Regions from separate parts of the Homo sapiens genome. Here region 2 is linked to region 1. The links come from fine-mapping of genetic effects on gene expression. A gene starts in region 1. The other region holds a variant in brackets. All regions are shown on one strand. Distances are between the middles of the regions.

The links. PIP is the estimated chance that this variant, and not a neighbour inherited with it, causes the effect. A credible set is the group of variants that fine-mapping cannot tell apart.
Region 2: its variant is the best candidate, but not a certain one, in a credible set for the expression of SPX in whole blood (TOPMed, PIP 0.55).

The regions. Positions count from the first base shown.
Region 1 is chr12:21,523,497-21,528,032 of GRCh38, forward strand. SPX (spexin hormone) reads left to right here and starts at 2,800. Exons shown (of 6, transcript NM_030572.4): 1 at 2,800-2,982; 2 at 3,390-3,470; 3 at 3,639-3,696; 4 at 4,231-4,293. The coding sequence starts at 2,977.
Region 2 is chr12:21,581,138-21,585,137 of GRCh38, forward strand. All of the region lies in intron 1 of GYS2 (glycogen synthase 2), which reads right to left. Among named protein-coding and RNA genes, the nearest start is that of GYS2, 22 kb to the right of the region's middle. The variant T/C (reference allele first, on the strand shown) is at 2,047.

The DNA.
Region 1 (4,536 bases):
TGTTCAATATCTGCCTATGTATATAGATCTTTTAACTGAATATTGATATACTTGGAATCCTATCCCTCTTGCCTTCTAAGAATTTCCTTTTGCTGTTATATTCCCTTTCTTCTACATCATGAATTTCTCCTTCCCTACTGATCATCCCCATCAATATACATGTCTTACAAATTGTTTCTTAGTTGTCACATCAACAGAAACCAATAAACATGGCTGATTTGGGCAAAACAAAGATTTTATTAAAAGGACACTGCAGCTGGCATCACCACTGCTACAGCACTGGATGCTGGAACTTGCCACTAGCACCGTAGCTAAGACTACTCCAGAAACTCAATCTTACTACAACCCCTGCTTCACCCGAGCACTTCTTCCATCCTGGCATGAGATTCCCCATCTAAGCATGCTCATCTGATTGGTGAAGCCCGTGTCATATGCCCACATTCTCCCTGATAGGGAGGCTAGAAAACTGACTATCTGGCATTTTCAGTTTGTACAATAGAAGAAACACTCTGCCTCCCAAAAAGATTCATAATTTCATAATTCATAATTCAGGGAATTTTAGGAATTTCCTAGAAATGAAAGGTTTCCCAAAAAGTATAACAAATCTTCTATCTTATCTTTTAAAAAAAAAAAAAAGATTTCACAGGCCAAGCATGCCTATAATCCCAGAGGTTTGGGAGGCTGACATGGGAGGACCAGTTGAGGACAGGAGTTTCAGCCCAGCCTGAACAACATAGTGAGACCCTGTCTTTAAAATAACAATAACAATAATAATAACAGTAAAAAAAATTCTCATTTTTTCCTTTCCCTTCTTTTGTGACATCTGTAAAAGAGATTGTTTATTCTTGGCTTTAATTTATCATATCATATTCACTATTCAACCAACTCCAATCTTGCTTCTATCCTCAAAACCATCATATTCCAAATCCAGTGGATGTTTCTTGGAGCTAATGTTGCTTGACCTCCCAATACTACTGGATCTTCACTTGGCTTCCATGATATCAGGGTCCCCTGGAATTTCTCCTTTCTTTCTGACTCTACCTCAACCTCCTTTTCTGGCTCTTCCTCTGCTCATTCTCTATGCGTTTGTTTTCATAGCTCTGTCCCTGCCACTCTTCTTTAGCCCTATTCACTCCCTAAGTGTTGTGTTTAATCTCATCCCTTTACTGGTTGTAAAATTCTTAGAATTCTTAAAATTCTTAAAGCTAATCATTTCTGCCCCCCACCAAAAAGAAAATCTGTAGGCTGGTGACCTCTTGGCTGACCTCTATCAAGTTTTGCATTTCTAACCTTCTATTTTGTACTTGTACTTGGATATTTTTAATATACATTTTAATTTTAATATGCCTATATGGCAAGTGTTAATTTCCCTCTCATAACTTGCTTCTTAAGAAGTTTCTCTAATTTCAGTAAATTACTTCATAATTTACCCACAGTTTTATCCATAAACCTAAGAATCATCCTTGATTTATTTTTCTCACACTTTCATATCCCTTTTATATACAAGTTCTATATTTTCTACCTCCACAACATGTATTCCAAATTCATTTACAGCTCTTCTTTCCCTGTGTGTACCATCCCAGTGTAAGCCATCATCATCTATTGCTTATAATCGTATTTCCACATCAACTGGCCCATTTCTTCTTCTCCAATCTCATTTCAAAGCACCTCCCCCGTTCACCCACACAACGCTGCCTCCATTGGCCTCTTTCCTAGTCCCCAAGCAAGTCATGCTCTTTGCTGTCCACAGATTTTGCTTTTCTTTCTTCTATTGAGAATGCCTGGAATACTAATTCCTGCCCAGCTTCTCCCATTACTTCACCTTATCCTTCAAGACTACCCTCTGTTTTTAACCTTCCCTAAAGTAGCCCACCACTTATCCTATCACATCACCTTGCTTACTTTTACTTAACAATTTAAAACATTCTGTAGTTACAGTAGTCCCTGCTTATCCACGGTTTCACTTTCCATGGTTTCAGTTACCCATGGTCAACTACAGTCTGAAAATATTAAATGGGAAATTCCAGAATTAATAAGTTTAAATTGTGAGCTTTAAATCTGAGTAGGGTGTTGAAATCTCTCACTGTCCAGCTCCAGCCCACCCAAGACATGAACCATCTTTTTGTCCAGCATGTCCATATGTAAACACCACTCTCCCATTAATCAGTTAGTAACCATCTTGGTGAACAGATAAAAAAAAATAGTATAATAAGGCATATACGTATCAGTGGTTTCAGGCATCCACTGTGGGTCTTGAAACATGCTCCTCCACCCCACACACACCTACGATTAAGGGGTAACTACTGTGTCTTATTTATCTATTCATCAGTTTACTGTGTACCTTAACTAGTAGGTAACTTAGATCAAAGCAGAGACCATGTCTTTTCAGTGCATGGCTGTGTCCCTTGAAATACAAGGATTGTGTGTCTCATAGGCACTCAATAAATATTTGCTAAACAACAGAATGAATTGATAATTAAGTGAATGACTGATGTCAAATTCCATTGAGATTCCCAAACCTTTTCATACATCTTTAGCCATCAGTGATAGACTGATGGCTAGTTACCCAAGAAAAGTTTTCTGATTTATTCTTTTACTTTTGATTCTGCCTTGGACTATTGATTGTTTTCATTAATAATAATAATAACATGTTACTTTGGGCAGCTAGTAGGAAAAGCAAGGCCAATGATGCTGACACATTCTGAAGGCCTCCTGGGTGATGCAATCAGTATTTAAACAAATAATTTCTGCCCATCAATCATTCCTCTACTTCCTGCAATGAAGCTCCCTGGAGGAGTCATCAGATTCTCAATCTTGCTTGAAGACTGACAAGATGTCCCTGTGGACTCCCAAACTCTACTCCAGATGGGGAGGTGCCCTTAACACCAAGATTTTAAAAGCTCCAATTTCAGAGCAAGAGTCGAAAACTCACAGATAAAGTTATAGTTATTTCAGGGTTCTGAAAAGACGCAGAACATGAAGGTAAGTAAAGGCTTTATTAACTTGAGACTTCTTAGCTATTTTTTAAAACGTTTTATAGCATTTTACCTATTTCATGTTTAATAAGGATTTTAGAGTTTAAAGGATATTTGAACGATACGCCTTTAGAATAACAGAATCATTTGATTTTACTAAGAAAAAAATTCACGTATTTACTTATTCTTCATTTGGGTGAAGTAATACAAATAATATGTTTCTAAATACGTTTTTTCAAGTGGACTCTTTGTGAATTAACTAGAAGGTAGAAGGGAAACACCTCCAGAAAACTGAGTATTAAAACAGAATATTGCGAGAAGTAAGGGGGTTTATAATTGTCCAGGCGTCAAGGAAGGAAGCAGAAGATCCTATTGGCACAGAAATGACCCTTTCTGGTTGATCGCTTCATATAGGGACTCAGAAGTCTGGCAGCAACAACCTTGGCTCTTTTCCTGGTGTTTGTTTTCCTGGGAAACTCCAGCTGCGCTCCGCAGGTAATCAAATGCAAAATAAAAAATTTTAAAACAATGCGCACTGTGTGTCCACTCTGCTCTTTCTTTCTTCCTTCTTGTTTTATTCTCTTCTTTTTCCTTTATTTTGCTGTAATAGAGGACTGAGCTGCAATGTTTTATTAACTGCTCTTCCCTTCCCCCGGGCTATAGAGACTGTTGGAGAGAAGGAACTGGACTCCTCAAGCTATGCTCTACCTGAAAGGGGCACGTAAGTTCCAAATATTTCGCTCTTCCTACAATAATGGAAGACCCCTAGGAGTCAGGAACAGATAGATGGAGAGTTATGGAGAGAGAATAATGTCGAGTTTATTCCCTTAAATCATCGAGGCCATCAAAGAGACCGGTAGGTGAGGGAGGGGTGGGAGAGGGGAAGAGTCCCTGATTATTGGAAATCCTCCATCCTTATTAGAAATTCTCCATCCAAAACTGGAGGGTTGCTTCTCTTGGTCCAAATGGGGACTCGGGTTGCCTGGGAAATATCTCAGTAACCCGACCTCCGCTCCAAAGCGCCCTTGCGGCGTCCGGTCAGGCGCGGGGCTTTCCTCCAGAGCTCCAGGGCCCCTGGCTCAGCCCGGGGTTGCGCTGGGAGCGCTGGAAACTCGGCAGCCCCGCGCGACCCTATCCTGGAGCAACCTGCCCCCTCCCCACGCCCGGGGACTGCGCTGTGCCGGGAGGAGCTGAGGTTTAAGCCCGGGTTGTCCCGGGCCAGGCTGTCGCTGAGCCCCAGGTCTCGTTTTTGCAGAGGGTCGCCGCTTCATCTCCGACCAGAGCCGGAGAAAGGACCTCTCCGACCGGCCACTGCCGGGTGAGTGACCAAGGGTGCAAGGGCGCTAGTCCTGCGCTTTTGGAATAGGATGGGGCGGGCAGGGCTTGCTCCGCGCTGGTGCCGAAAGAAAGCGTCTCCTCACCGGAAAGACGCGGCTCTGAGGCGCCCTCAGATACAGTCCGCCCGAGGGCAGCCCGGGTTGGCAGCAGCAGCAGCTGGATGCCGAGCGCCGGAGCTGGGAGCTCGCGCGTCCAGCCCCGCGCCAATGGTGGCAAGGGCGGC
Region 2 (4,000 bases), 57 kb after region 1:
CAAATACGTATTTCATTCTCACATGGTATTTCTCTCTTCCTAGTAAGGGAGGAGACCACCCTTCATATTGTTTTATGCCCAATTTCTGCCTCCAAAGAAAGAAGAAGTAAAAACTAAAAGGCAGAAATGAAATCCACAGGCAAACAGCCTGAGACCACATCCTGGGCCTGGTTAAAGATAGACCCCTGACCTGGCCAGTTATGTTATCTATAGATTCCAGACACTGTATGGAAAAGCAGTGTGAAAATCCCTGTCCTGTTCTGTTCCATTCTGATGACCAGTGCATGCAGCCCCCAGTCATGTACCCCCTTAGAGTTGTAAGCCCTTAAAAGGGACAGGAATTGCTCACTCTGAGAGCTTGGTTGTTGGAGATGTGAGTCTTGCCCAAGCTCCCAGCCGAATAAAGCCCTTCCTTCTTTAACTCGGTGTCTGAGGGGTTTTGTATGCAGCTTGTCCTGCTACACTAGAATCGTTCCTTAATTCTCTCCTCTAATATTGCTGCTACCTCTATTAAAACACAAAGCCACAATATATGGATACATTTGGAAAATATGCACACTTTGGATCCAGCAAGTCCACATCTAGAAAACCATCCTGGGGGAAAATTAAGGAGAGTATGAAAAGGATGTTTACTAAAGCATTATGATGGCAAAAAATTAGAAACAACTTACACTGAACTAGTCAACTTACTTAACAGACAGAAGGCTCAATTAGCTCATGTGTCAAATGGGGGTAAAATAATATTTAGTTTGGAGGGAAAGACAGGCTCTAAAAGAGGATTAAAAATTAGATGTGGCCTAGGCAAAGAATTTATGACCAAGTCCTCAAAACTAAACACAACAAAAACAAAAACAGACAAATGGGACTTAATTAAACTAAAATGCTTCTGCACCGCAAAAGACCGAATCAACAGAGTAAACGGATAACCTACAGAATGAGAAAAAAAAATTGCAAACTATGAATGCAACAAAAGGCTAATATACAGAATCTACAAGGAACTCAACAACAAAAAAACCAACCTCATTAGAAAGTGACTGTGATGGTTAATACTGAGTGTCAACTTGATTGGACTGAAGGATGCAAAGTAATGATCTTGGGTGTGTCTGTGAGGGTGTTACCAAAGGAGATTAATATTTCAGTCAGTGGGCTGGGGAAGGCAGACCCACCCTTAATCTGGGTGGGCACCATCTAATCAGTTGCCAGCACAGCCAGGATATAAAGCAGGCAGAAAAATGTGAAAAGGCTAGATTGGCTTGGCATCCCAGCCTACATTTTTCTCCCATGCTGGATTCTTCCTGCCCTGGAACATTGAACTCCAGGTTCTTCAGCTTTGGGACTCCGACTAGCTTCCTTGTTCCTCAGCTGGCAGATGGCCTGTTTTGGGACCTTGTGAACATGTGAGTCAATACTACATAATAAACTCTCATATAGATATAGATATAGAGATAGATATAGAGATAGATATAGATATAGATATAGATATAGATATAGATATAGATATATATCTCCTATTAATTCTGTTTCTCTGTAGAACCCTAATACAGATTTTGGTACCAGGAGTGGTTCTAGAGGAACAGAATATTAAGGATGGAGTTCTTTCATTGGTTTTGGGGTTTCTGGAGTTGGCTGCTTAATATGATTAGACCCAAATATGCTAAGGACTCTTCTTCTAATGGTATGGAGAACACTGATAATCCTTGGCATCAATTGTTTAGAGAGTTATGCAAAATAAATGCATTTGACACTCTTGATTCAACGCTTGTGAGAGGCAAGGAATTTAGCTACTGTATACATAATACTTTTGACTATATGTGGAGAATCAAGGAACATAGTGAAGTTGGTTGGTTGCTTGTAAGTTCGCTGGACAAAGTGATGAAAGAAAATGATGAACTCAGGAGTATATCAACTCTCCAGCTTTGTGCCATAATCTTATTTGGAGAGAACTTGCTCACCTTTCACTTCCACAAGATATCACAGTGGTCCATTACATTGATGACATGCTGACTGGAACTAGTGAGCAAGAAGTAGCAAACACACTGGATTTAT[T/C]GATGAGACATTTGTGGGACAGAGGATGGGAAATAAATCTGATTAAATTCAGGGACCTTCTACCTCAGTAAAATTTATAGGGGTCCAATGGTTTGGGGCTCTTTGAGATATTCCTTCTAAAGTGAAGGATAATTTGCTGCATTTGGCCACTCTTACAACCAAGAAATAGGCACAACGCCTAGTGGGCCTATTTGGATTTTGGAGGCAACATATTCCTGATTTGGGTGTGTTACTCTGGCCCATTTATCGAGTGATCCAAAAGGCTGCCAGTTTTGAGTGGAGTCCAGAACAGAAGGCTCTGCCACAGGTCCAGGCTGCTGTGCAAGCTGCTATGCCACTTGGGCCATATGACCTAGCAGATCCAATGATGCTTGAGGTGTCAGTGCCAGATAGGGATGCTGTTTGGAGCATTTGGCAGGCTGAATCACAGCGGAGGCCTCTAGGATTTTGGAGCAAGGCCCTGCCATCTTCTGCAGATAACTACTCTCTTTTAGGGAGAAAGCTCTTGGCCTGTTACTGGGCTTTGGTGGAAACGAAATATTTGACTATGAGTCATCAAGTCACCATGTGACCTGAACTGCCTATCATGAACTGGGTGCTTTCTGATCCATCTAGCCATAAAGTGGGCTGTGCACAGCAGCATTGCATCAGCAAATGGAAGTGGTATATATGCGATTGGGCTTGAGCAGATCCTGAAGGCACTAGTAAGTTACATGAGAAAGGGGCTCAAATGCCCATGGTCTCCACTCCTGACACACTGCTTTCTCTCCCTGAGACTGCACCGATGGTCTCATGGGGAGTTCCCTATGATCAGCTGACAGAGGAAGAGAAGACTAGGTCCTGGTTCACAGATAGTTCTGCACGATATGCAGGCACCACCCAAAAGTGGACAGCCGCAGCACTACAGCCCCTTTCTAGGACATCCCTGAAGGACAACGGTGAAGGGAAATCTTCCTAGTTGGCAGAACTTTGAGCAGTGTGCCTGGTTGTGCACTTTGCACAGAAGGAGAAATGGCCAGATTTGCGATTATATACTTATTCATGGGCTGTAGCCAAAGGTTTGGCTAGATGGTCAGGGACTTGGAAAAAGCATGACTGGAAAATTGATGACAAAGAAATTTGGGGAAGAGGTATGTGGATGGACCTCTATGATTAGTCAAAAACTACAAAGATATTTTCATCCCATGTGAGTGCTCACCAATGGGTGACCTCAGCAGAAGAGGATTTTAATAATCAAGTGGATAGGATGATCAATTCTGTGGACACCACTCAGCCTTTTCCCAGGCCACTCATGTCATCGTCCAATGGACCCATGAACAAAGTGGCCACAGTTGCAGGGATGGAAGTTATGCTTGGGCTCAGCAACATGGACTTCCACTCACCAAAGCTGACCTGGCCACAGCCACTGCTTGCCAGCATCAGAGACCAACACTAAGCCCTTGATATGGCACCATTCCTCGGGGTGATCAGCCAGCTACCTGGTGGCAGGTTGATTATATTGGACCTCTTCCATCATGGAAAGGGCAGAGGCTTGTCCTCACTGGAATAGACACTTACTCTGGATATGGGTTTCCCAATCCTGAACTCAATGCTTATGCCAAGACTACCATCCATGGAATCACAGAATGCCGTATCCACTGTCATGGTATTCCACACAGCATTGCTTCTGACCAAGCCACTCACTTTATGGCTAAAGAAGTGTGACAGTGGGCTCATGCTCATGGAATTTACTGGTCTTACCATGATCCCTATCATCCTGAAGCAGCTTTTGAATGGCCTTTTGAAGTCACGATTACAATGCCAACTAGGTGACAATACTTTGCAGGCCTGGGGCAAAGTTCTCCAGAAGGCTGTGTATGCTCTGAATCAGTGTCCAATATATGGTACTGTTTCTCCCATAGACAGGATTCACGGGTCCAGGAATCAAAGGGTGGAAGTGGAAGTGGAAGTGGCA